Regions from separate parts of the Homo sapiens genome. Here region 2 is linked to region 1. A link means that fine-mapping ties the variant in region 1 to the plasma level of a protein whose gene starts in the linked region. Region 1 holds a variant in brackets. A gene starts in the other region. All regions are shown on their reverse strands.

Region 1 (16,174 bases):
ATTTGGGATAATTGCTATGCTGTAGTAGTAACTGAAAAGCATTCATTGATGATTCTTCCCTGAGTCAATTATTATATTAGTGGTTGCTAAAATGCAATTTTTAAATTCCATCAGCCTCATTTTATTATGTGAATACTATTGGTTATTCTTTCTGGATATGTCTGCCTTACTCCTGGCTTCCTCAAATTCTTTTAGGATTTGCTTCTGCTTATTATATTATTTCTCCAGGAAAAAAGACCTCTGAGCTGGGACCAAAACAAGAAAGAAATGAGAATCTATTTCTTTTTTTTTTTTTCTTTTTTTTTTTCAAGCATTAAACATTTAACACCTTATTTTTATTCATACATATTTTGCCCTAATTTCTTTTTTTCTTTTTTTTTTTAATTATACTTTAAGTTTTAGGGTACATGTGCACACACCTATTTCTTATTAATCTCTAACAAATAGTCCAGGGGCTACAATGTCAGTTTCTTATAATAAGATGACATTTTTGTCCTTCCTTTTGCTAAACACTAATTGTAGCTCTGCATCAGAAAACATAGACAATGCTAGAAGTGCATTCATTGTTTTCTAATCACAACATACTTACTTTGTTATATGACATTTATGTCATTTTATCAATTGAAATATGCTCCTCTAAAATGGCACTTTCAAAGTCCAACTACCATAAACAGAGCTCACCAGCCTCATTTCTCCCCTGCTCTCCTGCGGCCCCACAATGTGTCTGCTGACCTAAGACACTGAGGCTGCCAGCCTCAGCCTGACTGTGTTGTTTTTGTAATGTGCAGTTGATTATCTTTAGATGGGCCCGGCACAGGAATGTGACCCCAAATTATTCTCCTTTTGTGTATTAGGTGGGAGGATGTGTGAAGGTAATAAAAGAGAAGGATAGGACTCTTAAAATCTTTTAGGGACATGAACGAAAATAATAAATCTGGGTCTTAAAATAGCCAGTGGGCTAGAATCACTAAAAAAATCTCAAGGGGAGAAATATTCATCAGCTAGAAGAGGAACATGCATACTATTTGCAGCAAACTAATATCAGCTTTATCTTTAGAGCTGTTTGTGTGCAAAATCCAGGCTTCTGCATAGAGGGGAATTTTGCATCTTAAACTCAGGAAGCAGATTTAAGGACCTACTATGCACTCAGTCTCATGGTAGGAGCCAGGGAGGGGCAATTAGGAATGTAAAACATAATTCTCAGCCATGGGAACTTTCCACTTAATTGAGGGAGTCAAGACATACACAAATATGCTGCACTTTTCCTCCATTCTTTTTCATCTCCTTCAGTTATGTGCCTCCAACCACCTGCCACCCCCACCTCCCACAGTGATTAAGAAATAAAGCTTAGAAGCTTGATACGTTTATCTAATATGATTGGATTGTAATATTCTCAAACAAAAGTGTAGAGTCTTTTTCCTGATTGTAATTTTGGGATCCTTCATAGCAGGTGGCTTTTCTAGCACTGCGGACATGTGTGTTGAACTGAGCATGACAGGCTTGCATAAGCATTGATCACATCAATGGAACTTAACAAACTCACACTCTGCTTAGCATGGCAACCTAGGCCCTCCCACCCCACTCAGCAATCTCTTCTTGTAGCTTTTTTTATGTTTTCTGCTCACAGGGCCTTATTTGTGCCTTCAGATAGAGTTTCCTGGCGTTATAGAATAGCATGAATTCTCTTCCATTTCCCCTTTTCCCCAGAACCCTGTGAGTTCTGTGCCCATGACTCTTCATCCAAGAATTTCAGAAGTCCAGTCCAAATATTCCACCAGCACTGTGTTGGCACCAGCACTGTCCAATCAGAAAGGCCTTGGGCTTTCACCAGCTGCTTCTGCTGCCGTGGTGTGTTTCAGGTAAATATGAGATGACAAGCAACCAGGATCCCTTCCTAACCCATCTCCATGCTCATTCCGGGCTCACAGGGGACCCACCCTGTTCTGTTGTTACAGGGTCCCACTTGGTAGGACAAACACTTGGATGTGGACATCCTACAGCTCAGCCCACAAACCAAGGCTCACATCAAAGCCTTTCCAGACTACTTCAAGCCAGTTTATTCCTTGCTTTGTGCTTGCCCTCCCACTGTCCTCTGCAGACGTTGATAATAACCCAACGAGGCTTGTATTCCTGCGATGGGACCATGAGCCTCTAGAGGGCAAGAGACACATCTACCTGTGTTTGGCTCTCATCCACCCTTAATGATTGTTGGTTGAATGAATAACTAAATACATACATACCAGTTTTCCAGATACCAGAAACAAAGCACTGCCTTTGTTGTCCACATTCTTTATAATAGCAATGATAACTAACAATGTCATGGCATAACGTAAGTGCTTTAAATGCATTAGCTCATTTAAACATCATAGCAATCTTAGAAAGAATGCCTCTTATAAACCCCATTTTAAAGATGAGAAAACTGGAGCAAAGAAGAGTTAAGTTGATTCCTTAGCGTCACATAGTTGATGGATTGCTGAGCTGGACTTTGAACCATGGTAGTCTGTTTCTGGAATATCAGCTCTTAACTACTAAACTAAATTTCCTGTCTAGAATAGCCACCAGAGGTCCTTTAAATTTTCATCCTGATGAACCCAACTACTGGGCACAATTCTCTGTCCTTCCAAACTGCCCTGCAATTCCTCCCTTCGAGTCTTTTGCTTGTCTGGTTTGCAGCTGTAGAGTCAATGATGCTTTCTCTACCTTCTCTCCTGTTGCTGTGCTCCTGTGGTCTTCAGGCTTAGCCTGACTGTTATCTGCTTCACCAGACTCCTCGGACATCCCAGCAGAGCTTGAGGTGTTCTCTTCTGGCCTCCCACAGCACCATGCTTATAATAGACAGTTCAGTATGTATCTGTAGCTAGGTAATTATTTCTTTCCCCAGCACACTTGGATGTCTGAGTGATGAGCTTTCTATGCCCCTGGAGTATGTGCTTCTTATGTGTAGGGTCATGGATTTCTCATTTTCATTTCTTCAGTTCCTGACACCTAGTAAAATGCTCTGAGGATGTGTACTGAACGGGGTTACTGGGAACCAGCATTGCTCTTATGAATGGATGCAGTTGGCTGATGTCTTATGATTTCTAGAGACCTGGACAGATTATTTTGTCCTTGGCTATCTTTCCTGTCTGGAATCATGATGCCTGAAATGCTCCCATTATTGAACTGTTCTTGCAAAATAAGTATTTCATCCTCTAGTGTTCTCGGTAAAACAAAATATATTTGTGGGAAGAGCAGTGACTTAAATCTCTGAAACATGTGTGTGACTTGGAGGCGTGTGTGTAGGCTGTGTCCAGGATTCTGGGCACTCACGGGAGGCAGGGAGGGGAGGCATGTGTTGCTGAAGCGAGCTTCCCCTCATTTCCAATTTTGTCGGGAGCCAGCCTCCTTATATATCCCTTTTAGCACTTCTAAGTAGCAACACAAGTCTTCCAGATGGCTGTGGAATTACTTGTAAGGCAGCCTGCAGATGATTCTTGAAAAAAGAAAGTTCTCATTAAAAGTGAATGAAAGCGTGAATTTTTAACATGTCTGTTTGAAACTCTCAGAATTTTTAAGTGAAATTAGACTTATGTGGAATGAAGCACACCCAAAGCCCTTTAAAGCTTTGGAAGCCTATCTCAGTCAGCAAACTACACACAGACAGGGTGTTTCCCTTCTGTGTGGGCACTGCTGTGGGTGCCGGGGAGGCAGTGAGGAACGAGACAGGGTCCCTGTGCCCCAGGAGATTGCAATGTTTCCACAGACCATTAGCGAGTCTTTGTAGGCAATGGTTGGAATCCACTAGTAATTTTCAGTATTTTAAAATCCTAACCAACATCTTCTTATATTTAACCATAATAGCATTGTGCAGGAGAATGGAAACATCATTTCTTTGCTGTTGCCTGGAATCATAGTACCTCTGTGTGTTTTACCACTGCATGCCTCATTGGAAGACACATACTTTATTCCATAAGACAGGATGGTTGAAGAAACCAATAGAGAGCACTATATTTTGCCCAACTTGAGGCTCATGAACAGGAGAGAATGGCAGATTTTCTTGGTGGGGACAATATTGCAGGGCTCAGATACAAGATGCATGTATGTGGTTCTATAAGAGCTGCTCTGGTGAAGCGTCTTGTAGGATAACTGTTGGTGGACACCCTCTGCTTCCCTGAGGTCATCTGCAGACCCTTCTTTCCCAGTCTGTGGCATCATGAGTCCCTTGGCCCATAGGAGGATGCTTTGTCCATGTGCAGGACAGGTTGGAAGAGAGGAAGGTTAAAGCCCTGAAGCAGTTCTCAGCCCATGAGGGAGGAGAGGAGCTAGGTAAGGACTCCAGTTTCCTTGCCTTTGGAGAGTCCACTTCTGAACTGTGCTTTGCAATCTCTCAGAGGGTCCCCTGTGGGACTGAGTCCCAGTGGCTCACAGTGGTGACCTTCTCATTACCCTAGCCTTATTAGCTTTCCTTTCATCACTGTCTCTCCTCACCACTCATGCACCATGCTTGCTGGAATCATCTCCCAAATAGGACTCCTGTACCAAATTTCTCCCAAATAAGGCACCTGTACCAAATTTCTATCTTAGGGTCTGCTTCAGAGGGAGTGCAAACTAAAGACAATACATCAAAATACTGAGGAAGTAGAGAAGTACCTATGATAGAGGAGATCTGGAAAGACTACCACCGGAAGGTGGCTTTAAAGGTGATGGAGATAGGGTATTTTTCATTAGAACACCGCCATGGTGCTATAGCCACTGGTGGACTTGGGGTAATGAACCTGGCACCTGTAGGCTGGGCTGCTCCAGGCAGGGGCCCTTGGTATTGCCTGAAAGAACCTCAACTTCTCCCCCAGCACCTCTCATCTGGACCACATGGGGGCACTCTGCAGGCCGGGTGGTCAACTCTCCTAACCCTCGAAGTTGCTGGCCTTGCCACTCTCTCTCCTGTCTCCTCCACTCCTTACTTGATATGACCTGTAAGACTGTAAACTTGAGGGTCTGGTCTTTTTCTACTTCCTCAGCATATTGCATAGTTCCTGGAACATAGTAAATGCTCAATAAATATTTGTTGCTAAATAAGGTGTTTATCCTTTCCTCATCACTGCGGCCTTGAGCACCCCTCAGAAGACATCTCCCATGCCCCTCTCTGGCCACCTCCAACACATAGTGTTAGTCAGAGGTGCAGGAGGACATTACACTATTTACACACCTTTCTGCCAGCCCAGGGCTTCTCAAAATTTAGGATATGTAAGATTCAGCTAGAGAGCTTGTTAAAACATCTATTTCTGAGCACCAAGATGAAAGATTCTGGTGTGAGCTCTGAGAGTTTGAATTTCTAATAAGCTCCTGCGTGATGCTGGGACCATGCTTCAAGTATTGCTGCTCTAGGGTCCTGTCCTGACCCTCAGCTGTCAATTCTAAGCTGAGTGGTTACAAAGGTGAAATTCATTGGTCAGTACTATTTAGGGTTTTGGGACCAGCCACCAGTACCTTTTTGCACCCCAATGCTGATGTTTGATTCTAATAGAAGAATTGGGTGGATTTTTGATGGGCAGAGATGTACTTTGATTGGTTTCAGAGCCTAATTGCTTTGTAATTATAGTAGTTTGCTGGGGCTGCCATAACAAAGTACCACACATGGGTGGTTTAAACAACAGACATTTATTTTCTAACAATTCTGGAGGGCAGAGGTCTGAAATCAAGGTTTTGACATTGATTGATTTCTTCCAAGTCCTCTTTCCTTGGTTTGTAGATGGCTGTCTTCTCCTTGTGTCTTCACGTCATCACATTGTCTTCCTTCTTTCTGTGTCTGTCTTAGTAATAATGACAACAGTCAGATTGGATTACGGCCCACTGTAATGACCTCATTTTAACTTAATTACCTCTTTAATGACCCCATCTCCAAATATGGCCACAATCTGAGATACTGGAAGTTAAGACTTTGACAGATAATTTTTTTTGGTGGTAAGGGAGGCATAATTCACCCTGCAAAATAATATTCATAAGGAAACTTAAATCTTTTTGAGACTCAGTTTTCTCATGTGCAAGATATAGATAATACTTACTCCAAAGTGGTGTCATAAGGATAAAGTCAGCTGATGCTTACGATGGCCCTTTGCTAGTACTAAAGTTTAAAACAGAAAAAATGCCAGCTATTCTATTACATTTCAACTTTTCTGAAGTTCCGTTCTTATACCATGTTAGGATCAGGTGTCAGGTAAAAAGTTCCTTTCCCTTTTCAATGATCTTACCTCATTTTGGTCTATTAATTCTGCATAGCCATAAGCATGGTTGCTTTGAGTAAAGAAGTTGCAATAGTAAGGAGGCAACACAATTTAGTGAATGGCTAAGATCATGAAGCCATCCTCTCAGCTGCATGTCCTCCTGGAATGGAGGCACTTGGTGCATCTTCACCTTCGAAGATACCATTTACTTGCCTCTGGTTCTCTCCAAAGTGAACTGCTTCATTGAGGGGGCATTTAGATGTAGTGTCCTGATGCCAAGACTCCTGTCTGGGCTGAATTTCAAAGAGGATGATTCTCTTATTGTGGTCTTAAAGAGTGTCAAATTTTCTCAGCATGAGGCTTTTAGAATTTGGTACCCAAATGGCCTAAGAAATTCCCTTGTCCCATATAGGTGTTCAGTGGATCCTCTGTTGTTGGTATTGATGAAGGTCAGGCTGCTGCTCCAAGTAGCTGCTGACAGCAGTAAGGTCTACAACTCTGGGTGAAGCTGATGCAGTGACTCCCATTGTGTTTAAACTCAATGCTCCCTCCCTTCCCCTTTTTCCATATATCAAGTTGGATCTAATGTCCTGCTGAATCTACCTCCAATATCTCTTCTGTAACTTCCCCTATTCTTCCTCCCTTCCCTTTGTCGCTGCCTTAATTTAGGTCACCATCATGTCTTGCCTTGAAATAGCCTCTTAGCCAATCTCTCCTCCTTATCTTCCTCTAATCTACTCTGTGCCCTGATGACAAAACTGACTTTATAAAACATAGATCAATTTTTTATCATTCCTATGCTTAAACCCTTCAAAGTTTCTGTGCTATTTATAGATTGCTGTGTCACAAATCATTACAAATTAGTGACTTAAAACAGCTCATGTTCATCATCTCACCGTTATGTGAGGCAGGAACCTGGACACTGCTTTTCTAGAGACCCCTGTGTCAGGGTCTCTCACAAGTCTTCAGTCAAGTTGTCCAGGGCTGGGTCTCCACTAAAAAGTTGACGGGGGAGGGGCCTACTTCCAAGTTCACTCAAATTGTTGGCAACATTCGGCTTTCGGAGAGCTGTTTGAGAGATTATGTTCATTGTTGTTAAGTGGAAACTGCCCTCAGTTCTTTGCCTCATGGGGCTTTCCAACATGGTCTCTTACTTCATCACAGTCAACAAGGAAGAGCCTACTAGCAAGAGGGACATCACAGTTTTCTATTATGAAATTGATATTTCATTGCTTTTTCTGTAATCCGTCAGTTAGAGAAAGGTCATTAGGCCAACCTATATTCAAGAGAGATGATTACATAGGAGGAATTACATAGGCAACTACCAAGAGGTGGGGGTCATGGGGTCCCCCTATAGTCTATCCAACACAGGCCCTCACTGACCATGCAATAAATCCCAGACCCTCAGCTGGGGCAGGAGAACTCATTGGTTAGGAGTAGCAGAGACTGTGGCATCAGACAGAACTGAGTTAGAGTCCTGAATTGGTCATCTGTTGTGCTTAAACCCTCTAGGCCTCTGTTGGTTCATCTGAAAGATGGAAATAGTCATGGCACCTACCTCATAGGATTGTGGTAATGATATAAATGAGAATGTAAGAATTTGTGGAATACCTAATCAGGAACAAAAGCTCAATGATGTTAAGGATTATTTTAATTAGTGTTACCAACAAATTCTCAATAATCAATGTGATTGTTTCCCTTCTAGTTTTATATTTATCCTGCCTGCCTCCTCCCCTCATGCTCCCTTGGACTCCAGCCCTGATGAGTCGCAGCACATTTCCCCAGATGTGCTGGCCTTGTTGACGTGGTGGTATCTTTCCCCATGCTCTTTCCACTAATTAGACTGTCCTTCCTGTCTCCGTCCCTCTTATCCAAGAGTGAATGGAAATATCACGTCTTTTGAAGCCTTTTATGCCCTGAGGATGGATGGGTGCCCCACCCCACAACATGCCCACTGCGGTCTCACAGTGTCCTATACTTTTATCATCTGTGTGTCTGTCTTCTCTAATGATACAGATCCTGTGTCTTTCCTTTTCGGGTCCTAAATACCTATCAGAAGGTCTGGTACCTAGTAAGTGCTCAGTTTGTGTTTTAGGAAAAAATAGAATTATGGTAGAAAAATGTTATATACTTGATATTGGGGAGGTGGATAGGGCTGTTAACATAATTAAAACTGAGAGAAATTAAGCGTTTTATCCAAGGTCACATGGTTAATAAACGGCAGAAGTAGATGCAAACCCAGCTTTGCTGACTGCATATAGGATGCTGTTTTGGGAACAAGTAAGTACTGGGGCCAAAGGGGAATGACGTAGAATAC[T/C]TCTCTAAAGGTCTTTGTGGGAATAAGAAATTTTGTGAAACAAGAGAACTCTTAGAAATCTCAAGGCGTGTTGCTTAATTGTCAATGAGGTGCCTGGTTATTTGGAATAACAAGTGGATGACCTTGGGCCTGAGAACCTTCCATCTGTACTGTTCTGGGAAGTTCTAATGGAGTTCATCTGACGGGACACACGTAATTCATAAAAATAATCATCAGTGTTTCCTATGAATAGCCCTATTGTTTCACTGTTCTGCTGTTGAATGGGAATCAGTAATAAACATGGGAGGCAAGTAAAAGGAAACCAGCCAAGTAGTCTGTTGTATGGATCTCAAGCAGTAAAGCAGAAATTCATGAGATTTTTAAGAAAAAGTAACTAAAAAACTCTGTAGTCAAGTTAACGAAGCTGTGATCTCATGAATGCTTAGGTTAACAAAAGTAATTTCAGTTTTTAGAACACGGCAAAGTTTTTCCTGCTATCATTGGCTTTTAAATGTAATTTCATTGAATTTTTTCTTCGTTACTTTTTCTTATTTCATAAGTAACCTTGTGGCTAACATAAAAACAAACAAAAAATGGAAAAAACATATCTCATCATGCCAGGTAAATAAAACTGTTTGTATTTGTTAATGTTCCCCTTTTGTCTCTACGTTGGTATGCGTCCATCTTTTTGCATTCTTTTAATTCCAATATTGGCATAATTTTTTACTGAGATTTTTAAAGTTAGAATTTTGGTCTTTGAGGATGCATTTGGTGATAGATACAGCTATTCTCACACAAACATATTTAGTGATTTAATATATTATACCTAGTATCCTTAACCAGTGTTCATGGTTCTTATCTCTAGGATGGGAAATGATGGATATAGAAGCCAGTGAGAGCTCAGAATGCAAATGCAGTAAGTAACAGTGCCAAACATAGCCTTCACATTGATGCCACTTGTTGAGTTAGGAGTTAAGTATCTTACATGAATTATTTTATTTAATCCTCATAACAACTTATTAAAGTGGTACTAGCATTGTTGGTGTTCTTACAGATGAGGAAACTGAGGTTCACCAATGCTAAGTAACTTTTCCTAGGTTATTTGTTTAATAAGTGGTAAGATCAGGACTTTGAGGAGGTAGGTCTGACCCAAAGTCCCATTAATTGTCTAATAATTTGCCATAACCCAAGGCAACAAAATTCATGTTCTGTCAATTTCACTCATCCACTTAAATCATTCAATATGGAACTATTGATCACGTGCTACGTGCCAGGCAGTTCCTTTCTGCCTGGAGCTGTCATTTGTCACTTTCTTAGAGAAAGTGTTGCTTTACCTTTGTATTACACGTTACCTTTGTCACTTTCTTAGAGAAAGTGGTTGTTATACCTTTGTATAACAGGTTACTATCTCCTGCCCTCACCATAGGCGAAAGGGCTTGGAGAAGGAAAGGGGACACTTTGAAGATTGGGAAGTTGAAGGGCTATGGATTCTGACACAATATCAATTTAAAGCTATTCTCAGTTTAAAGGAAAAAACAATGAAACAAACAAATAATAGCAACAACCCAGACTGAGAAGCTGAAGACCTTCTTGTGCCCAGGGGTTGTAGATGCACATTTAATAGCTGTGTAACCTTGGACCTCAACCTCTTTGTCCTCTGGGACTTCAATTTTCTTGTCTTTAAAATGGAGATAATACTCTATTGCGGGATCTGGCCAGAGATATTGTGGGATCTGGCCGGCAGCCTGCAATGCAACGGGGCTCTCTCTTTGTTCCCAGGCAGATCGGCAGGTTGAGAAATAATAGACACACACAAGATAGTGAAAGCTGGGTCCGGCGGGGGGTCACCGCCTTCTGGTCCCGCGGTGCCAACAATGCACTGGATATACCAGCATTTATTATTAAGTTTAGTGAGGGCAGGGGTAGGTTAGTGAGGGATTTAGGGTCATTTGATTATGAGGTGAGATGGTCACATGGGGATGAAGTAATTCTTTAACATAACATTTGTATGTGGAAGTACAGTACATTTGTATGTAGAAGTACAGTATACAGAGATAAGAATTTACAATATTGTATGCCCATCAGTAATTTCTAACAGAGCCTTAGAACAGAAACACAGTCTTTCCATAACCTATGATTAGCAAGATATTAATCAGCAGTAACAATTGCAACAAAAGCTGGTTACAAATAATCCATGGAAACAGGACGTGCAGCTAGACAACTGGTCAGACCAGAAATTCTCAGAAGGGAGTATGCATTAACCCTAAAGAGGCCTAGAAGAGCCGCGGCAAAATGAGGGCGTTTATAGCCCTATCTTATCCATATGGACAGGCTCCCTCCATGCGTCCACTTATAGGCTCTCCACAAGGGTCGCATTCCATTCCCAGAGCTATGAACATCTGCTTTTCTGGGATAGGAATCTTGGTGATGCGAAACTTTCCTGACTGCACGTCCAGTCATAGGCTCTCTGCAGGGGGAAGCACATCACGTGCTGTTGGCTCGTTCTGGCAGTCCAACCTGGCGTTATCTTTACACAATCCTGCATGCAATTTTGTATTTACAATAATCAGGAGCATTTCATCTTTTATTCCATAGCAATAGTTTCAGGGGGTCTCCCTACAATACTCAACCTCCTTTAAAACATTAACATGAGGATTAAATTGTATTCTTAATGTAGAGTGGTAAAAAAACACCATCTACCTTCCCATTGTTTCAGAGGTTAGCAAATCAGTGGGCCAAATTTATCCTGCCTCCTATTGTAAATACAGTTGTATTGTAACAGAATTGTATCCATTCATTATGTTTTGTCTATGGCTGCATTCTACGGTGGCAGAGTTAAGAAGTCACGACAGAGATTGTATGGCCTACAAAGCCAAAAATATTTACTATCTGGTTCCTCACAGAAGAAGTTTACTGATCTTTGTTTGCTTTATATGTCCATATTTTGTTAACCAATTTACAGAGGGTTGATTTATTATAGAGGCAATGATGCAAACAGAGTCACATCTTTTGAGATCACCTATTCTGAGCCATTTTAATCCTGGTCAGTTGGGTTAACAGAGTTGTAACCGAAGACCTAATGCTTTACTCAGCACTGGTGCTTTGGTTCGCAGGGACCCTGAAGACAGGATGCTCTAAGGGCAGACAAAGGCTGTTGAGGTAGATAGATCTGAGTTTAAAAATCCAGGCTCTACCCTACTTGCTGTGTGACTGGGCAATCACATTCCTCTCTTAGTCTTTGTTTTGCCACCTGGAAACATGGGCAGTGATGCCTAAATTTCAGTGTTTTGTAAGCTTAGGGATTTATGTAGGAAGGATCCAGAGAAGTGCCTGGTATAGAGTAGGGATCTGATAAGTGGTGACTATGATTATTACGAGTATCCTACCTACCTTGGATTGAGTGGAGGCTTTTGAGAAGTTATATGAAAACATTTGGATCTCATGGAAAGCTTCTAAGAAGTGAGAAACACTTGATCATAGACAACGGAGAAGAGATGAAGATTTCAAGCAATGAAGATGAAGAGACCTTTTTCTTGAACAGTAAGACCTTGCAGGGCTTGGATTGAGCAAAATAAGAGTCCTCAGTGAGCTCACCTGGCTGTACAGGGTTCATGAAAGGGGATAATCTGGAAGCAGGAGCACCTGTTCATGTCAGTGTAGATAAAAGGAAGGGAGGATGCTTTACATTTAAACCCATTTTGACTTTTGTATTAATAATATCCATACCTTTAACAAAATGTTTGCTTCTGTGAGCTGGGTGGTGAGCTGTAAGATCACAGTGAAACTGTTACCTGATGATTCTGGTTTTGCTCATTCATTCCTTCAACATACATTTAGTGAGAGTCTTTTATGAAATGTGCAATTTGCTAGGCACAAGGCAAATGGCAGCAGACAAGGAATCCACGATCTTTATATTCCTAGAGTGGTCACTTCTGTGGGTAAGACACACATAAAAGAGCCACTTCAAGTGAGGAGTTCCCTTATGGAAAAGGACACAAATGACGTGGGGTCCTGATCTTACTCAGGGATCCCAGGAAAGACTCACAGCTCGAGGAAGAAAATGTGAAGGTGAGAGGCCCAGCAGGAGTGAGGTTCAGAGAATGCCACCAATATCCTCTGCAGACTGGAGAGCATATACAACGTTGAAGACAAGCCTTCAAGACGTTGGATTGAAAGAACCCTCACCAAGAAGGACTGTATATATGAAAGCACAAAACGATGCACTTGCATTCAAGATTTGGAAAGAGAGATATATTTTCAGTTTAAAAGACATCATTTCACCAGCCTGAAATATTTCAGTTTGTCCAATTTACATAACAAGGCATGTTACACAATACACGCAAAACATATATTAGTTGAAAAGGTTAATGTTGAAAAGGATTAATTTCTTCTCTAGCAACACAGACCTAATTAAATCTTTCCAGAAGCAGATGGACAATTCCACCCTCTAAATCGAGATATTTATGTAAATATCACTGAGCTAATTGATACTCAGCTGAATCAAAGGAAGGTAAACAATGTGCTTTCATGGTGTCAACAGTTGTGAGTTTGATTTACTGCATTAATGACTTCCTGGAACGAGCTATTATCCAAAGTGAGAGAGATTCTGGGATCTAATTTATTTTCTTGATTATTAGAGTCACACTGAAAATGAGTCCTGTTTACAGGAAGTATCCAGAGTAGGAGACAGGAGCTTTTCACAGGTCCTGTTTGTCCAGAGGTAAGAGTCTCCACCAAGGAGCTGTGGCTTGCATGGGCATCCCATGACTTATTGAAGGCAAGGATTAAAATGTGGGACCTGTGTCATCAAATTATGACCCCAGTGAGTCAAGGCAACAAGACTTGGGGAAGAGTAAGGACTGAAATTTTAGAGACCCAAGTCAACTGCCTGGCATCTCCACCATTATGTTTTGGGTAAGTCACATTTTACAGCCCTCAGTTGTCTCATATGAATGGATACATTAGCCTTGGCTTTATCATTTACAGGAGTGTGGACTGGGAACTGAAAAAGTAAATAGGAAATGCATTGTGAAACAGAAAGGACTGCATAAGTGGGAGTTGCCATTGTTATTAGAGGGACATTGTTAGTATTTCATTGCATTCTTTTCTTCTCTAGGTTATACCAGCCTGTAGGTAAAATGGCCACTCCCTGTTGCCAGCCATGTTGGCAATCCTGAAATGCATCTTTCCCACCTGAAGGCCTCCTGGAATTCTCTTTCCCCTGAGGTTTTCATGATGGCTGCTTTTCAGTGTTTCATAATTAATCTAAAATGTCGCCTTTTGGATAGATCCTCTCCATTCAGTCTAAGTAGACACCCCTTCTTCTTTATTCTCCATTACCACATCTTGCACATCTTGGTTAATTTTTCTGTAACTTGACATCATCTATTTGTGATTAGTTGCTCATTTCTTTGTTTTTTTTTTTTTTTTTTTTTTTTTTTTTGGTTAGTGTCTGTCTTTCCCACTGGTCTGTACATTAATGAAGGAAAGGGTTGTGTCTCTTTCATCCACCAACATGTTCCCAGTGCTCAGCATAGTGTCTGGCACTGGTGGATGCTCAATGAGCATTTGTTGAATAAGTAAATGGATGAGAATATTCTTCTTCATTATTAAATAATATTAATAAATAACAATAATTACTCATATTCTGGCTGTCACTCACACCAGAAGGATTTTTAGAACTCTGTGTCCTCACCTCCTGGGTTATTCAGAATACCCAAAGGAAGGACTAAGTCCTCAAATACCACTGGTATTGCCAGTTTCTCTCCTCTGGCCACACCTACTGCTGGGCCCTCCAGTGTCCACTGAGCCCAGCGAGCTTCTCACTGATGGCAGTGGCAGGCCATCTGGAGCAACCACTGCCATTACTTCAGCTGCAGCAGAGAGACACAGTCAGAGCTGCATGCTCCATGGAGCCGGTGGGAGCTGGCAGAAGCTGGTGATAAGCGGGAGCCCCACCCTTCTGAGTTGGGGAGGGAACTCCCTGGGTGTTGCTGCCGCTGCCCAAGCCATGGCTGCAGACCTGGGCATCCTTGTGCTCTTGGGGCCTGGGAGCAGGCAGGAACCCCACCCTCCTGGGTATAGTTGCAGCTGCCCAAACCACAGCTGCAGACTTGGGCCTCCTGCTCCATAGAGCAGGCAGAAGCCCTGCCCCACTGGCACAGCTGCAGCCATCCAGACTGTGGCTAAAGACTCAGGCATCTCTGCACTCTTGGGGGCCCTGGAAGGCACCCCCACTCTTGCAGGCTTAGAAGTACCTGCTCCTGCTGTCTGGCTTCTCCCTGCTATTGGCACTGGCTCTGACCTTGGAGCAAAGTGGGGGCCACGCCTGGGCACTGTCATGGCCCGGCTGGGTACATACATGCTCAGGGCAATGCTGACATGCCAGCACCCTGCCACCTTGGCCCCCTCTGGACTTTGGGCACCAAAAAGCATAGGAGGGAACCCTAGGGGGAGCTGATGGCAGTTCAGCACCAGCCCACAGGCATCCCTTGGCACCTACAGCCTGGGCACCATAAATAGCAGCAGAAGGCAGACAGGTTCCTGGGCAGAAGTGGGAGGTTTCCTGGTGAAGCCCAACCTTCAGGCCAGGGAGGACCTGAAAGCTGGGGGCCATGCTGCCAGTCCCACAGATCAAAGTAGGAACTTGAGGTGTCTTTTCTGGGCCCACTCATAGCCAACCATGGACAAATGGATGTGCTCTTCCTCCCCTCTGAGGCCCATAAAAGCCCCGGGCTCAGCCAGAGCTGAGCAGAAGTCAGAATGATCAACTGCAGAGAGGAGCAACCCACTCCAGGGCCTCCTCTCTGCTGAGAGTTGTGCAGACAATGGGATGATCAGCTTCAGAGAGGAGCAGCTACCCTATCTGCTGATAGCTGGACACCTGTTGGGACAAATTGCCTAGCAGAGAGGAGATAACCTCTCTTCTAGGAGCTAAACACTCATTGGCATGCCCTGGCTGTGGAAAGGAGCTTCCCCTGAGGGTGTCCTCTGAGCTTTTCTATTGTTCAATAAAGCTCCTCATTGTCTTGCTCTCCCTTAATTTGTCTGCATACGTCATTCTTCCTGGCCACAGGACAAGAACTTGGGATTCACCAAATGGTGAGGTTAAAAGAGCTGTGTCACAAACAGGGCTGAGACATGCCCCTTGCTCACCACATTGTGGGTGAAGATAAGGAAAAAAAAAAACTGTGCCCCTCCAAGACCTGGGAGCTCCTGGATCCAGGGCTGTGACTCCCTCTTTGAGGGCCTGTGGTTCCTGGCATCTGCAAGCTTCCAGGCACCACTTGTTCCAGTCATGGAAGCTGCTTGTGGTGCACCTGGTCCAGCTGCAGCCTCACAGAGCCGGCATCCATGCTGGCACCTGGAGCTGCCTGCCCTGCTGCAGCAGCTGGCATGTCTGACTGTGCACAGTGGCTGGGCCCCATGCTCACTCACATTCCCCACGCCATTCCATGCTTGACTTTCTCTTGGGAGGCATGAGACCCAGGCCAGTAGCATGAGCCAAGCACAGCCTGCCAAGCCAAGTGGTCAAAACAAGCCCAAATGGGCCTGAGCAAAACTTGGGCAAAGATGCCTCTGGCCATGGGTTTCTGGCCAGAAAAACAATACCCCAAAGATCCTATAACATCACCATGGTGCCTGCTGCCAGTTGGTGCTCCTGGTGCTCCTGGAGGGC
Region 2 (16,174 bases), not on the chromosome of region 1:
AAGGCCTCTGGGGTTTTAAGGGTCACTTGGAAAGAAGGACAAAATAAGGGTCTTTGATCTCAAACTTGGGTGTGGAATACTTGCTGTTATTTCAGCTCTTGTGTATTTCTAGGTATGTGCGCTGCCAACCGTGTCAGGGAAACACCAAGATCTGAAGTATGTCAACCCAGAAACAGTAAGCAGATTTCTGGAGATGGTAACTGGTTACATAAGCTACCATCTGGTCTCTTCTGTCCCTAAAATGCCCATTTCCATTTGTATTTCTTTCACTGTGTTCACTCACACAGGCTCCTTATTCAACTGAAGTTATATTGAAGGACTCATTTTTTTCCCCATTCTTCTCTCTCCTTCGTTTTTAGTTAAACAAATGATACATAGTTTTTGTAAAAGGGAAAAAGGGAGGGGTCAGGCATGGTGGCTCACGCCTGAAATCCTAGCATTTTGGGAGGCTGAGGCAGGCAGATCTCAGGCACTTGAGGCAGGGAATTCGAGACCACCCTGGCCAACATGGCGAAACCCCATCTCTAATAAAAATACAAAAAAATTAACCAGGCGTGGTAATGTGTGCCTATAATCCCAGCTACTTGGGAGGCTGAAGCACAAGAATTGCTTGAACCCCAGTTGGGGAGGTTGCAGTGAGCAGAGATCGTGCCACTGTACTCCAGCCTGGGCGACACAGCGAGACTGTCTCAAAAAATAATAATTACTTAAGAAAAAAGGGAGAAAGAAAGGAAAATAAAAAATCACACACAAGAAATGGTCTCAATTAAGGTCTCAATTAGGGTGACCATGCACCCTCGTTTACATTTTACAATCCCATTTTCATCTATTAGTGAGGGTAATTATTAATAGTGTTTGCTTTCATTCTCAAAAGTCTCCCAGTTTGTACAAAAATTATTTGGTCACCATACCCACAATCTCATCACCAGAGATAACCACTAGTCATATTTTCCTATGGCCTTCCAGATTTTATTTTATTTTTAGACATGGAGTTTCGCTCTTGTTGCCCAGGCTGGAGTGCAATGGCACAATCTCGGCTTGCTGCAACCTCTGCCTCCCGGAGGTCATTCTCCTGCCTCAGCCTCCCAAGTAGCTGGGATTACAGGTGCCAGCCATCACACCGACTAATTTTTGTATTTTTAGTAGAGACGGGGTTTTACTATGTTGGTCAGGCTGGTTTCAAACTCCTGTCCTCTGGTGATCCACCCTCCTCAGCCTCCCAAAGTGCTGGGATTACAGGTGTGAGCCACTGCGCCCAGCCCCAGATTTTATTCTAGCATATGTTTTATAGAAATGGGATCATGGGCCTAGCACAGCTCACACCTGTAATCCCAGCACTTTGAGAGGCCAAGGCAGGCGAATCACCTGAGGTTGGGAGTTCGAGACGAGTCTGACCAACATGGAGAAACCCCGTCTCTACTAAAAATATAAAATTAGCTGGGTGTGGTAGCGCATGCCTGTAATCCCAGCTACTCGGGAGGCTGAGGCAGGAGAATTGCTTGAACCCGGGAGGCAGAGGTTGCGGTGAGCCAAGATGGCACCATTGTACTCCAGCCTGGGCAACAAGGGCGAAATTCCATCTCAAAAAACAAAAAAAAAGGATCATGATGAACGTATAGTATTGCAATTTGCTTAGTGAGACATTATAGACATCTTTCTATATCAATAAGGTATCTATATTATCATTTTAATGGCTATATAATGCCGCTCTATTCTACTGACATGTACAATTTATTTTACCAAACCCCTATTATTGAATATTGAAGTTATTTCTAATATATTGATAATATAAAACAATGCTGAGATGAATATAATTGTGCCTACATCTTTGTGTACTTTTCCTGTTTACTTAAGATGTTAGAAATTGCTGAGTCAAAGTGTGATTACATTTATTTGTATATGTATTTACAAAGTTCCCTTCAGAAAGGCTGAACCAATTTGCACTCCTACAAGTAGCTTCAGTTTCTTCCTTCCTTTAGGTATCAACCTTTCCCTTCCATATCCTTTCCTGAAAGACTTACTTTCTTCCTTTTTGATGGTGGGTAGGGAACCATTTTGCATTTCTTCCTGCAATTTCAAGCTCTCTAGCTGCTGCCTCTGCCACTGCAGAAGTCCTTGGGCATCTCCTGAGTCCAGCCATGCCTATCCCCAGATGGGTAGCCTGAATATGGTTTTCCTTGGTATCTTGTCAGTGCCAGCTATTTTGGTTCTCTAAAAGGGCCACTTCCTGTTTCATTCTCTTTTGTGGAGTGGGGCTGAATCATTGCCACATATCAAATATGGGGTGACTTTGGAGGCTGGACATACAGTGGACAGAACAGGAGTATGCTTGTAAGGAACTGTGTCATTGACCCTTCTCTCCCTCAGAGTGGCAGTGAGCAGAATATTCAGTCATTGTTTCTGTCCAGGTGGCTGCCTTACTGTCGGGGAAGTTCCAGGGTCTGATTGAGAAGTTTTATGTCATTGATTGTCGCTATCCATATGAGTATCTGGGAGGACACATCCAGGTGAGACGACATTGTGGCCATTAGTAGGGGAGGGCTGGAGATAACTCTTTATTGAGAAGAGTCTGTGGACAAAGGGGTCTATGAACTCTAGAGTCAGGACAAAGATTACATATTTGAAGCACCTCAAGGCTGAGGTCCTCATTGTTTTAATTCTGTATACCTTAAGCAGGTTACTTTCCCTTTCCCTCCTAGATCTATCTCCCTCTTTTCTGTAGGAGCCAAGGGGTCCTACCTAGAAATAAAAACATTAATCCAAGGACTGAAGCACTTTGCAAACACTTACTATTCATGAACATTCCTCGCAGTGATCTCTATACTTCCAGTGGTTCAGGTCTATAAACATTTATTGACCATCTACAAGCTCTATGCCAGGCGTTCAGGGTATATACAGAGATATACTTAGACCCCTGCCCTAAAGGTGCTTATAGTCCAGCTTTTCTGGTCCACATTATCCCAGGTTGGCGTCTCAGTCATTTCTAAGTATTGGCACTGTCTATAAGCCCCTGAGGAAATACTTACTAAAATTCTTCTTCTACAGGGAGCCTTAAACTTATATAGTCAGGAAGAACTGTTTAACTTCTTTCTGAAGAAGCCCATCGTCCCTTTGGACACCCAGAAGAGAATAATCATCGTGTTCCACTGTGAATTCTCCTCAGAGAGGGGCCCCCGAATGTGAGTGTCTAAATGGGGTCTGGCGGGTGATGGAAATGGATTTTGAGTTGGACTTCCCACACCAGTTCAGACAGAGACTGACTGGATTCTACAGTTTGAAGAATGTTAGGGAGGTTGAAGGAAGACGTTTCTAAAATTGAAAAGTTTGAAACAATAAAGGAAAAGGGATTGAGAATGAGGCTGCAGTGGAGGAAAGGAGGAAGGGTGGTACTACTTGGACCTTTTTTTGCAAACACAGGGAGATTGGAAAGTCCTTTTTGAGGTTGGCAATAGTCTACTCCTCTCCCCCCTCCCCAGTGAATGGCCCCTGGGATCCTGACCTTGTTTCTTTCCACCCCACCCATCTCTGGGTTCTCTCTAAAGGTGCCGCTGTCTGCGTGAAGAGGACAGGTCTCTGAACCAGTATCCTGCATTGTACTACCCAGAGCTATATATCCTTAAAGGCGGCTACAGAGACTTCTTTCCAGAATATATGGTAAAGGGTGGGGCATGCGGGGAGCCAAACTTTAACAACTCAACTCCCAGGGCCTGCAAAGCCTTCAGAGAAGAAACTGCTGCTCCTCCTTAGCCACTGCCAGCAGCAGCATCTCTATTATCCTTCATAGGTAGAGTTCAGGAGTCTAGAGAATCCCTTACTCTGTTCCTTACCTTTCAGGAACTGTGTGAACCACAGAGCTACTGCCCTATGCATCATCAGGACCACAAGACTGAGTTGCTGAGGTGTCGAAGCCAGAGCAAAGTGCAGGAAGGGGAGCGGCAGCTGCGGGAGCAGATTGCCCTTCTGGTGAAGGACATGAGCCCATGATAACATTCCAGCCACTGGCTGCTAACAAGTCACCAAAAGACACTGCAGAAACCCTGAGCAGAAAGAGGCCTTCTGGATGGCCAAACCCAAGATTATTAAAAGATGTCTCTGCAAACCAACAGGCTACCAACTTGTATCCAGGCCTGGGAATGGATTAGGTTTCAGCAGAGCTGAAAGCTGGTGGCAGAGTCCTGGAGCTGGCTCTATAAGGCAGCCTTGAGTTGCATAGAGATTTGTATTGGTTCAGGGAACTCTGGCATTCCTTTTCCCAACTCCTCATGTCTTCTCACAAGCCAGCCAACTCTTTCTCTCTGGGCTTCGGGCTATGCAAGAGCGTTGTCTACCTTCTTTCTTTGTATTTTCCTTCTTTGTTTCCCCCTCTTTCTTTTTTAAAAATGGAAAAATAAACACTACAGAATGAGAGGTGTGATTGTGAGCCTAGCCTGCTCCTAGAAGATCTGTCTACAGAGGAGATCACCAAGTTAGACTACTTCAGACATACTATCTTTATTCATAGCTGAGGCCAACATGCTTTTCTCTAAACCAGTAATTCTTAGGCCGTGGCTCACACCTGTAATCCTGGCACTTTGGGAGGCCGAGGCGGGTGGATCACTTCAGGTCAGGAGTTCGAGGCCAACATGGTGAGACCCTATCTCTACTAAAAATACAAAAATTAGCCAGGCATGGTGGCGTGTGCCTGTAGTCCCAGCTACTCAGGAAGCTGATGCAGGAGAATCGCTTGAACTCAGGAGGTGAAGGTTGCAATGAGATCGTGCCACCGCACTCCAGCCTGGGCAACAGAGAGAGACTGTCTCAAAAAACAAATACCAAACAACCAGTAATTCTCAAAGTTTGGACCCTAGATCATCAACATCATCTGAACTTGTTTGAAATACAGATGTTCAGGCCTCACCCCAGACCTCTTAAATCAGAACTTGTGAGGTTAGGGCACAGAAATCTGGGTTTTAAAAATCTCCCTTTTCAGTTAATTCTAATACATGGTAAGGCTTAAGAACCAGTGCTCAGTAATCCCAGCACTTTGGGAGGCCAAGGCAGGCAGATCACTTGACGTCAGAAGTTCGAGACCAGCCTGACCAACATGGTGAAACCCCATCTCTACTAAAAAAAATACAAAAATTAACCAGGCATGGTGGCACACACCTGTAATCCCAGCTACTAGGGTGGCTGAGGCAGGAGAATTGCATGAACTCAGGAGGTGGAGGTTGCAGTGAGCCAAAATCCACTGCACTCTAGCCTGGGCAACAGAGTAAGACTCCATCTCAAAAAAAAAATGAACCAATGCTCTGGAATTAAGGTAAGCCTTTCAAACAGTTTTCTTCAGCAATGTCCTGGGCTTTCCTTTCCTAGATCATTCCATGGTATGCGTTACTAAAAGTGCACCACAGACTCAGCAGCATGTGGTATCTAGACATTCTCTAAGGCAAATGACAGATCTCAGCTGGGCTCAAAGGTTCCCTCTTGGCAGTGGCTCACACCTGTAATCCCAGCACTTTGGGAGGCTGAGGCTGGCGGAACACCTGAGGTCAGGAGTTCAAGACCACCCTGGCTAACATGGCAAAACCTCGTCTATACTAAAAATACAAAAATTAGCCAGGCATCGTGGTGGCTGCCTGTAATCCCAGCTATTCGGGAGACTGAGGCAGGATAATCACTTCAACTTGGGAGGCAGATGTTGCAGTGAACAAGATTTTTCACTGCACTCCGGCCTGGGTGTCAAAGCAAGACTCCATCTCAAAAAAAAAAAAAAAAAGTTCCCTATCTATAGCCTTAGGGGGGTTTTGACTTTTAAGTCTTTTCTCCACTCCATTTCACGTCTCACAAAGACAAGTTTTAGGATTTAGGATGGTTGGAAGTAGAGATTTGTGATATATGAAGATAGGAATAAAACAAAGCAAGATCCATTAGACTTCAGGAAGATTTTTTAACTGTACTCTTCTGCAGTATGCCAGGGTTTCCTTTCTTGGAGCTTTTTAATATGAATAGGCCTTTATCTGTAGTAAGGTGTGGCACTACTTGGTCTTGGGTGGCAGTAGAACTGACTGAACATTGTCATTCTCTGGTATTAACCTAGTAGGACTGATAGCCCAGGACGGAACAGGACGAAGCCCTCTACAGCCTAGGCTGAGACAGAACAGAGACAAACATACCCTCTTCCCAGGCTCTGGAACAGAGACACTTTTTTAAAGTGAGTGGGAGGGAAGGGGGGTTGTAGCCATAGGGCGGCCCATGCACGTGCCTGAGTGGTTGGACTGGCTTTTAATTTTTTTATTTGACAAGGTTTGCACATGCTCTTGCCCTAGAGTGTCACATGCATGCTTCACAGCAGAGGGCACTGCTGTTTTCTCCAAGCCATCCTGCTGAAGTCTGTAGCTTCCATTCCTAGCTACTGCCTGTCTGTCAAAAAGGAAGCTGTCTCTGTGGCCTTCTCCCTAATCCCTTGAACTCAAAGCCCAGAAGGTCTAGGGGAAAGAGAAAAGCTGCTGCTACGTTAGGTGGAGATGGCCAAAGGAAAGATGCTGCTCCTCTGCCCCACCCACACACGTGCCCCTATAGGAATTCCTAGTAGCCAGAAAAGAAAACTGCTTGAAGCACCTCTTCGAAGTGTGAGGAGAGGTCCTTAACTCACTGCCTACCCTAGTGGGTCATTTCCATTTCCTGATAATTCTCCCCAGAAGGCTAGAACCAAGTCCCAACATAGATAGAGATTGATGTACATGTGCCCACTAGTCAGTAGTCTTAAGTGGAAAATCTGAGTTGCAAAACAAAACACTAAGGCTTAATTATCTTCCTCATGGAAAATTGTATTTTCACCCAAGTCAACATTTTTTGGTATTTTTTATTTTATTTTATTTTATTTGAGACAGAGTCTTGCTCTGTCACCAGGCTGAAGTGCAGTGGCGCGATCTCAGCTCACTGCAACCTCCACCTCCCGGGTTCAAGCAATTCTCCTGCCTCAGCCTCCCGAGTAGCTGGGATTACAGGCATGCACCACCACGCCTGGCTAATTTTTGTATTTTTAGTAGAGACAGGGTTTCACCATGTTGGTCAGGCTAGTCTTGAACTCCTGACCTCGTGATCCACCCACATCGGCCTCCCAAAGTGCTGGGATTACAGGCGTGAGCCACCACGCCTGGCCTAATATAAGCCCACTGATTTCTTGTAATATCCTCTCATTGTATAGGGACTATATGATTTGATTCATGTTATTTTCAGGAATAACAATAGTAGCTAACATTTTTCAGGTGCTTACTGTATACAAGGCTATCTCTAAACTCATATATATATATATATATATATATATATATATATATATATATAAACTCCTATATAAATACACACTAATTTAATTTTCACAAGCCTGTGAAAGAGGTATTCATTATTATGAGCATTTCTTTATGAAGATAAAGAAATTGAGGAACAGAGGGATTAACTCTTTTTTATTTTATTTTATTTTTTTTTGAGACAGGGTCTCACTTGTTGCCCAGGCTGGAGTGCAGTGGTACAATCTCAGCTCACTGAAACTTCCACCTCCTAGGCTCAAGCAATCCTCTCACCTCAGCTTCCCAAGTAGCTGGGACTACAGGCATCTGCCACCACACCTGGATAATTTTTGTATTTTTTTCTTTTCTTTTTTTTTTTTTTTTTTTTTGAGACGGAGTCTCACTCTGTCGCCCAGGCTGGAGTGCAGTGGCGTGAACTCGGCTCACTGTAAGCTCCGCCTCCTGGGTTCACACCATTCTCCTGCCTCAGCCTCCCGAGTAGCTGGGACTACAGGCACCCACCACCATGCCCGGCTAATTTTTTTTTTATTTTTTAGTTAAGACGGGGTTTCACCATGTTAGCCAGGATGGTCTTGATCTCCTGACCTCATGATCCGCCCACCTCGGCCTCCCAAAGTGCTGGGATTACAGGCGTGAGCCACCGCGCCTGGCCTGCATTTTTTTTTCTAATTTGAATTTTTTTTTTTTTTTTGGAGACACAGTCTCGCTCTGTTAACAACCTGGAGTGTAGTGGCGCGATCTCGGCTCACTGCAACCTCTGCCTCCCAGGTTCAAGCGATTCTGCCTCAGCCTCCTGAGTAGCTGGGACTACTGGCATGTACCACCATGCCCGGCTAATTTTTTGTATCTTTAGTAGAGAAGGGGTTTCACCATGTTGGCCAGGCTGGTCTCGAACTCCTGGCCTCATGATCCATCGGCCTCAGCCTCCCAAAGTGCTGGGATTACAGTTGTGAGCCACCGCACCCAGCCCTCTCCCTTCTAACTTTCATGGAGGCAATCTGAGCTCTAGTCTTCAATTGGAGCCTCCCAAAGTGCTGAGATTACAGGCGTGAGCCACTGCACCTAGTCAAGTAATAAGATCTCAAAGCTAATTAATGGTGGAGTAGGGATTTGACCCAAGACAGTATGGCTCCAGAGCCTGTCCACTTCATGGATTTTGCTGTTACCAAACCTTCATCAAAGAACAGTGTGCCTGGCCAGGTGCAGTGACTCACATCTGTAATCCTAGCACTTTAAGAGGCCAAAGTGGGAGGATCCCTTGAGACCAGGAGTTTAAGACCAGCCTGGGCAACATAGCAAGACCCCATCTCTATAGAATAAAAATCAACTTAGCTGGGCATGGTGGTGCACACTTGTAGTCATAGCTACTGGGGAGGGTCAGGCAGGAGGATGGCTTCAGCCCAGGAGGTTGAGGTTGCATTGAACTATGATCCATCCACTATACTCTAGCCTGGATGACAGCAAGACCCTGTCTAAAAAAAAAAAACCACTGTGCCTTTCCAGAGTTGGCCCTGTATTGGGTGTTAAATCTATAAGAGCCTCAATGGTAAGCTCTTGAGAATTTAGGGCCATAAGGGTTGCTTTGGCTTGAGAGATAAGGATATGAGCAGGCACTAAAACCCCAGCCCAGAGACCTCAGTATGAGGCTATGTAGGGGGTGTGCTCGGCATTGGTGTCCTTGCACTGGTATTTATTCATCAGGAGGTAAAGAAATATTGAACAGAAATGTTTTGAGCTAAAAACTGCTTCTCGAGGCTGGGCGCTGTGGCTCATGCCTATAATCCCAACACTTTGGGAGCCTGAGGAGGGTGGATCACCTGAGGTCAAGAGTTTGAGAGGAGCCTGGCCAATGTGGTGAAACCCCATCTCTACTAAAAATACAAACAGGCCAGGCATGATGGCTCACACCTGTAATCCCAGCACTTTGGGAGGCCAAGGTGGGCAGATCACGAGGTCAGGAGATCGAGACCATCCTGGCCAACATGGTGAAACCCCGTCTTTATTAAAAATACCCAGCTACTCGGGAGGCTGAGGCAGGAGAAGTGCTTGAACCCAGGAAGTGGAGGTTGCAGTGAGCCAAGATTGGGCCACTGCACTCCAGCCTGGTGACGGAGACTCTGTCTCAAAAAAAAAAAAAAAAAAAATTAGCCAGGAGTAGTGGCAGGCACCTGTAATTCCAGCTACCAGGAGGCTGAGGCAGGAGAATCACTTGAACCTGGGAGGTGGAGGTTGCAGTGAGCTAAGATCACACCATTGCACTCCAGCCTGGGTGACAACAGCAAGACTCTGTATCAAAAACAAACAAAAACCTGCTTCTTGGGCTAGGTGCGGTGGCTTAAGCCTATAATCCCAGTACTTTGGGAGGCTGAGGTGGGAGGATTGCTTGAATCCAGGAGTTTGAGACCAGCCTGGGCAATATAGTCAGACCTCTGTCTCTACAGAAAATTTAAGAATTAGCCAGGTGCAGTGGTGCATGTCTGTAGTCCCAGCTACTCAGGAGGCTGAGGTGGGAGGATTGCTTGAACCCGGGAGGTGGAGGTTGCAGTGAGCTGAGATTGCACCACTGCACTCCAACCTAAGTGACAGAGGGAGACTCTGTCTCAAAAAATATACATAAATTTTTTTTTTGCAATTGCTTCTTGTCAATCTCAGCCCAGGACCTGGGTGACCTCTGCCATAGAGAAGGGAATGTATTAAGCCATTCTTCCTTTGCTATAAAGAAATACCCTGTAATCCTAACACTGGGAAACTGAGGCTGGAGGATCACTTGAGCCTAGGAGTTTGAGACCATCTGGGCAACATGGTGAAACCCTGTCTTTACGAAGAATTTTTTTTTTTTAAGATGGAGTTTCGCTGGGTGCGGTGGCTCACGCCTGTAATCCCAGCACTTTGGGAGGCCAAGGCGGGCGGCTCACCTGAGGTCAGGAGTTCGAGACCAGCCTGACCAATATGATGAAACCCCATCTCTACTAAAAATACAAAAATTAGCCGGGCATGGTGGCATGTGCCTGTAATCCCAGCTACCTGGGAGGCTGAGACAGGAGAATCACTTGAACCTGAGAGCTGGGAGGCGGAGGTTGCAGTGAGCCGAGATCGCGCCGTTGCACTCCAGCCTGGGCAACAAGAGCGAAACTCCGTCTCAAAAAAAAAAAATGGAGTTTTGCTCTTGTTGCCCAGGCTGGAGTGCAATGGCACAATCTTGGCTTACTGCAACCTCCGCCTCCCGGGTTCAAGTGATTCTCCTGTCTCAGCCTCCCAAGTAGCTGGGATTACAGGCGCCTGCCACCATGCCTGGCTAATTTTTTTGTATTTTTAATAGAGACAGGGTTTCACCATGTTGGTCAAGCTAGTCCCAAACTCCTGACCTCAGGTGATCCACCTGCCTTGGCTTCTCAAAGTGCTGGGATTACAGGCATGAGCCACTGCGTCTGGCCTTCTACGAATAATTTTTAAAAATTAGCCAGGTGTGGTGGTGTGCACCTGTAGTCCCACCTACTTGAGAGGCTGAAGTGGGAGGATCACTAGAGCATGTGAAGTTGAGGCTGTGGTGAGCCATGATTGCACCACTGTGCTCCAGCCTGGGCAGTAGAGTGAGACCCTGTCTCAAAAAAAAAAAAAAAAAAAGGAAGAAAGAAAAAGAAAAAAAATACCTGAGACTGGGTAATTTTTTTTTTTTTTGAGACAGAGTCTTGCTCTGTCACCCCTGCTGGAGTGCAGTGGCATGATCTCAGCTCACTGCAAGCTCTGCCTCCTGGGTTCATGCCATTCTCCTGCCTCAGCCTCCCGAGTAGCTGGGACTACAGGTGCCCGCCACCACGTCAGGCTAATTTTTTTTTTTCATTTTTAGTAGAGATGGGGTTTCACCGTGTTAGCCAGGATGGTCTCAATCTCCTGACCTCATGATCCGCCCATCTCGGCCTCCCAAAGTGCTGGGATTACAGGCGTGAGCCACCGCGCCCGGCTTTTTTTTTTTTTTGGAGACAGGGTCTCACTGTGTCACCCAGGCTATAGTGTGGTGGCATGATCTTGGCTCACTGCAACCTCTGCCTTAGCCTCCCAAGTAGCTGGGACTACAGGCCGACACCACCATGCCTGGCTGACCACCATGCTTGCCTGGGAGACTGAACAATTTATAAGGAAAAGAAGCTTAATTAGCTCATGGTTCTGCAGGCTTTATGGGAAGCATGGTGTTGGCATCTGCTCAGCTCCTGGGTAGGCCTCTGGAAGCTTACAATCATGTCAGAAGGTGAAGGAGAAGCAGACATGTCACATATCCAGAGCAGGAGCAAGAGAGGGAGGGAGTTATGGGAGGAGGTGCCACACACTTTTAAATGACTGGATCTCTTGTGAACTCAGTGACAGCTCACTTATCCCCAAGAGAATGGCCCAAGCCATTCATGAAGGATCCACCCCCATGATCCAGACACCTCCACCAGGCCCCACCTCCAACATTAGGGATTACATTTCATCATGAGATTTGGGTGGGGACAAATATCCAAACTATATTAAGGAGGAATATTTCCCTTTCTTTATCAGGAGTATAAAGTAGGAGGCATGGGGGATTCTCTCCCTGTTCTGTTCAGGCATAGGTTAAGGAAACACCAATTCCTTTAAACATATGCATCTGGAGTTGCCAATTCTGAGTATCACAGTTGTTAAAATATGACACAGTCCCTGCCCTCAAGAAATTGACAAGGTAGAAAAATAAAAAATGGCTCTTTTTGTTTCCATCCCTACAAGCACTCTGGTCTAGTAGTATATTCAGCAAAAGGAGCAAAAAGTGCCACTTCCAGCTCCAAATCAGCAGGTCGGGTGGTGGGGTCTGGCCAAGTTCACACACAGAATAATTAACTCCTGCATGCTACCTGGGATGATATTTATTCGATGCTTGCTATATGCCAGGTATAATGCTACACCTTTTTTTTTCTTTTCTTTTTTTTTTTTTGAGTCGGAGTCTCGCTCTACTGCCCAGGCTGGAGTGCAATAGCATGATCTTGGCTCACTGCAACCTCCGCCTCCTGGGTTCAAGCAATTCTTCTGCCCCACTGAGCCTCCCGAGTAGCTGGGAATACAGGCATGTGCCACCATGCCCGGCTAATCTTTGTAATTTTAGTAGAGATGGGGTTTCATCATATTGGCCAGGCTGGTCTTGAACTCCTGACCTCGTGATCCGCCCACCTTGGCCTCCCAAAGTGCTGGGATTACAGGCGTGAGCCACCGCGCCCAGCCTACACCTTCATTTAAATACTATACTCATTTAATCCTCACAATGTGAAATAGATACTATTATCCTTAATTTTACAGGTGAAGAAATGGAAGCACAGAAAAATTAAGTGACTTGCCCAAGGTCATCCAGCTAGTGTCGGCATTTGAATCTAGGCAGTCTGTAAAGCTTGTGGTCTTAACTATTTATTATACTGCTAACATCCTGGATTAGGATAGCAGCAGGAATTAAAGCTCAATGGAGAGAGAGAGGACTTGAGAGAAGGTAGAATCCATGTAATCTGACCATAAGAGGAGAAAATTGAGATTACAAGTGAAAGTGGAATAAGATACAGGGTCTTTGGGCATTTGAGTTGCAATCAGTGGATTGTAACACCCTCCCCGAGCAGGATTTGTGTCTTAATCATTTTGCACCTAGCATAAAGCTGGGCTCATAATCATTCTCAAAACACATTATTGAATTGAATGATGGATGAGTAACATCATCTCTGTAGAAAGGACTGGCTCATTTGTCATTGTCCACAAGGGGCAATGCTGCTTATCTAGCAGGTGTTGGCAGTCACAGAGGACATGGTTGGTGGAGAGGGTGTGCTGGAGGGCTGTCAATATTAGTCTTGGAGTCATATTTATTTGCAGAGCTTCTCCAATCCTCATTAAAGGCCCAATGATATGAGGCTCTCCACCCCTGTACCCAGACAGAAATATGCACCAGACACTTTATTTTCTCTCATGAAAAGGCTGGCCTGTTACAGGTGGGATTGGTCATTGCTCCCAGCCCGTCAGCTTGATACTGCATTCTTGGTCTATTCTGTGGGGACAGCCCTGGAATAGACACTGAGTATCTATCAGAGTAGGCACCCTGAGCAAACTTCCTTTCCCAAACCCTCTTCCTGCCCATAACATGATTTGGCTTGGGCTGGAGGAGGGGGAGGGCAGAGGAGACACCCCTTGACCACCTCACATCTTTGTTGGTTCATGGGTCTCAGCCCTTTCCTATCATCCCAAAGAGCCTGAAATTGTTACATTTTGCTTTATAAATTCCTTTCTTAAGTATTGTCAGTTTCAAAAAAAAAAACCCAAAAAACGATTGTCTGCCTGTAATAGCAGGTGTGAGAGAAAATGAGGTGCCTGGAGCATATTTCTCTCTGGCAATGGGGTAGAGGGCCTGACATCATGGGGCCTTTAATGGTAGCCCCCCAGCTTCATGTTCCCTCACCTTTCTGGAGAGGAGGGCTTGGGAAAGGCACATGGAGATAGGGTGGAGCTGGGGGAAAACAGGCCTTGTACAAAAGCTGAGTAGCCAGATGTTCACTTTTACAGCTCTTCTGTAAAACTGGCAGGGCAGATATAGATTAAAACGAAGGACAAACTCCATTTAAAGTGCATTACAGCTCAGGAACCAGCACCCCCTGGGCAGGAGAAGGGAGGGAAGGGCACAGAGGCCACATCAGTCTCCTTCCTTATCTAGGGCCACATGTCTCTCTCCTAGCTTTGCCAAGGGTGATTTACACCCCCAGCTGGAATGACTCTCTTTCTGGGCTGATTACATCGGCAAATGCCCCCCAGAGGCCACAGCAGGATGGCCATATTCAGAAGCAGCAGCCAATAAATCTCAGAGGTTTATATTGCGATTCTCAGTACTCCCTGCTGGCCCTCTGCCAGGCTGGCTGTGGAAGTAAGGAGGGGGTCAAGTTAGAGGGTTAGGGGATGAAACCCTCCACTTCCTTTCATCACCCTCTTCTCCTTCTCTCTTTCTATGCGCTGCTTAGTTCTCATTCTTCCAAGCCATTCTGCTTCTGGCTTTATCCTGGGATCTTGTGGGAATCAGGCCCAGGCCCAATAAATACCCTTATCCTTATGGGTAGACGTCCTGTGTTCTGGGCACAGATGTGTTTCTACCTAGTTGTTTAATCCTGATAGAGTAGCTTGCTCTCCGAAAGTCTCATCATGTGAAAAGGATGGGCTCCTAAATGGTCTCTCCAGGCACCTTCCTCAGTGAGCTTTGGTCCAAGGAAATCTCTGCTATTTAGTGGAGAGTTTAATCTTCCATCTTCCCTCACGACACCATCGGGGCTGAATTTTGGAATCTAATGCCCCAGGTCTGCTCCCCCAGCAAAGCCATTCCACCTGTCTGCGACCCATCTTTGCAGCATCTTGAGCTTAATAACCACCCAATCTTACCCTAGAAGACACTTAGGAGAGGAAAAAACGAGATCATAGATGTGCAAATTCTAAGAAAAATACTAGAAATGCAAGTGCCCTTGTGTTGGCTTGTTCAAGTTTTGTTACAAAATCTCTTTTGTGGTGGTGTCTGTTCTTTGATGTGTGGGTGAGTGGGATCCAGAAAGTGAGAAAGGGTGCTTTTCTTGGAGAAATATTTGGTTCTCCTAGATGGCGAGTTTCCAGCGGCAGCTTCCACAATGTCTTGCTAGTCGAACTTGTCAGACAGCAGGTGGGCCGCCTCGGAAAGAGCAACCTCTTCCGCACCAAGCCCGGCGGCTCCCGGGGCGCCGGCCCTCCCCCGCCCCCACCCCCGCGGTCCCTCGGACCAGCGCTGGAGGCGCGTGGTGTGGACGCGCGCTTCGGAGTTGGAGGGCGGCGCCCAGGACCCTGGTGGGAGAGTGTGTGCGTCGCGCTGGAGGGCGGGAGGCGGGGGCGGGAGGTGCCGGTCGAGGGAGCCCCGCTCTCAGAGCTCCAGGGGAGGAGCGAGGGGAGCGCGGAGCCCGGCGCCTACAGCTCGCCATGGTGCGCCCCCTGAACCCGCGACCGCTGCCGCCCGTAGTCCTGATGTTGCTGCTGCTGCTGCCGCCGTCGCCGCTGCCTCTCGCAGCCGGTGAGTGTCAGAGCGCGCACCGGCCGGGGGTACAGTGGGAGGGGGAGGTGAGGTGTAGGCGAGGCCCGGGGCACCTGTCCGGAGAGGGCGCAGCAGCCTCCCGGTGCATCCGAGCCGAACAAGGGGAACTGGAGCAGGAAGCCCAGGGTGCCTGCAAGGGGCTGGGGTCACACCTAACACAGTGTACGAACTGAGATAGACTGAGTGCCAGCAATGGCCTGGCCACCCAAGCATCTCCTCCTCGCCCCTTTTTCCCCCCTCTTCCCTCTTTTGAGGTAGGTCTACACAGTCACAGAACAACCCACAGCCAGGTCACTACCAAGACAGCGTCTCTAAGAGGCGGGGAGAATCAGATCAGAAACAGAGTGTCATTTGCTCCACGTGGGCTTTAACTCTTCCATCTGCTTTAAGGACTGAGGAAGAAACTAGGTACAGGTGAAGAAAAAGAAGTTCGTTAAAACTGACTTGTTTCATAACCTTCTACAATAGCAGGCCTTGCAAGCCGTCTAGCACAGTGGCTTGCCCCTTGGATAATAAATAATCCACAATAGATGTTTTGTAGATGTAGTTCAAGGCCTGGTTTTAGAACCAGGCCACTCCCCCAAGGAAGAACAGCCTGGGATCCGAGATCCCTGGAAGGCCCATGGCCTTCGTGAGTGGTATGGGTGTGTGGAATCTTATTATGCGGCTCCTGCCCAGAGACTGAATGGAGGGACTCCTGAGACAGAGAGACCACCACACTGCCCTGAGACCTCAGTCCACAACGCAGTGCTGTAGAAATGCTGCCTTGAGACAGATATGGAAGGAAGGAGGAAAAACCCTGGTCTGTCCA

Alleles and levels. Positions count from the first base shown, and alleles are read on the strand shown. Strength reflects both the effect of a copy and how common the allele is.
In carriers of allele T in region 1, the plasma level of the protein whose gene starts at base 15,055 in region 2 tends to be higher than with C alone (weak association).

The links. A credible set is the group of variants that fine-mapping cannot tell apart. PIP is the posterior inclusion probability: the model's chance that the variant is causal. The UK Biobank Pharma Proteomics Project read protein levels with antibody pairs (Olink). The fine-mapping took linkage between variants from a reference panel, not from the people measured, so its PIPs are less certain.
Region 2: GFRA3 starts here. The variant in region 1 is the best candidate, but not a certain one, in a credible set for the plasma level of the GFRA3 protein (UK Biobank, PIP 0.60).

Annotation. Positions count from the first base shown.
Region 1 is chr8:134,283,057-134,299,230 of GRCh38, reverse strand. No RefSeq gene overlaps it. Among named protein-coding and RNA genes, the nearest start is that of ZFAT, 420 kb to the left of the region's middle. The variant T/C (reference allele first, on the strand shown) is at 8,518.
Region 2 is chr5:138,273,502-138,289,675 of GRCh38, reverse strand. GFRA3 (GDNF family receptor alpha 3) reads left to right here and starts at 15,055. Exons shown (of 8, transcript NM_001496.4): 1 at 15,055-15,342. The coding sequence starts at 15,252. It overlaps CDC25C (cell division cycle 25C), which reads left to right. Exons shown (of 14, transcript NM_001790.5): 10 at 113-175; 11 at 2,409-2,507; 12 at 3,046-3,179; 13 at 3,543-3,654; 14 at 3,835-4,407. The coding sequence ends at 3,984. RefSeq lists silencers at 14,963-15,052, 15,143-15,332.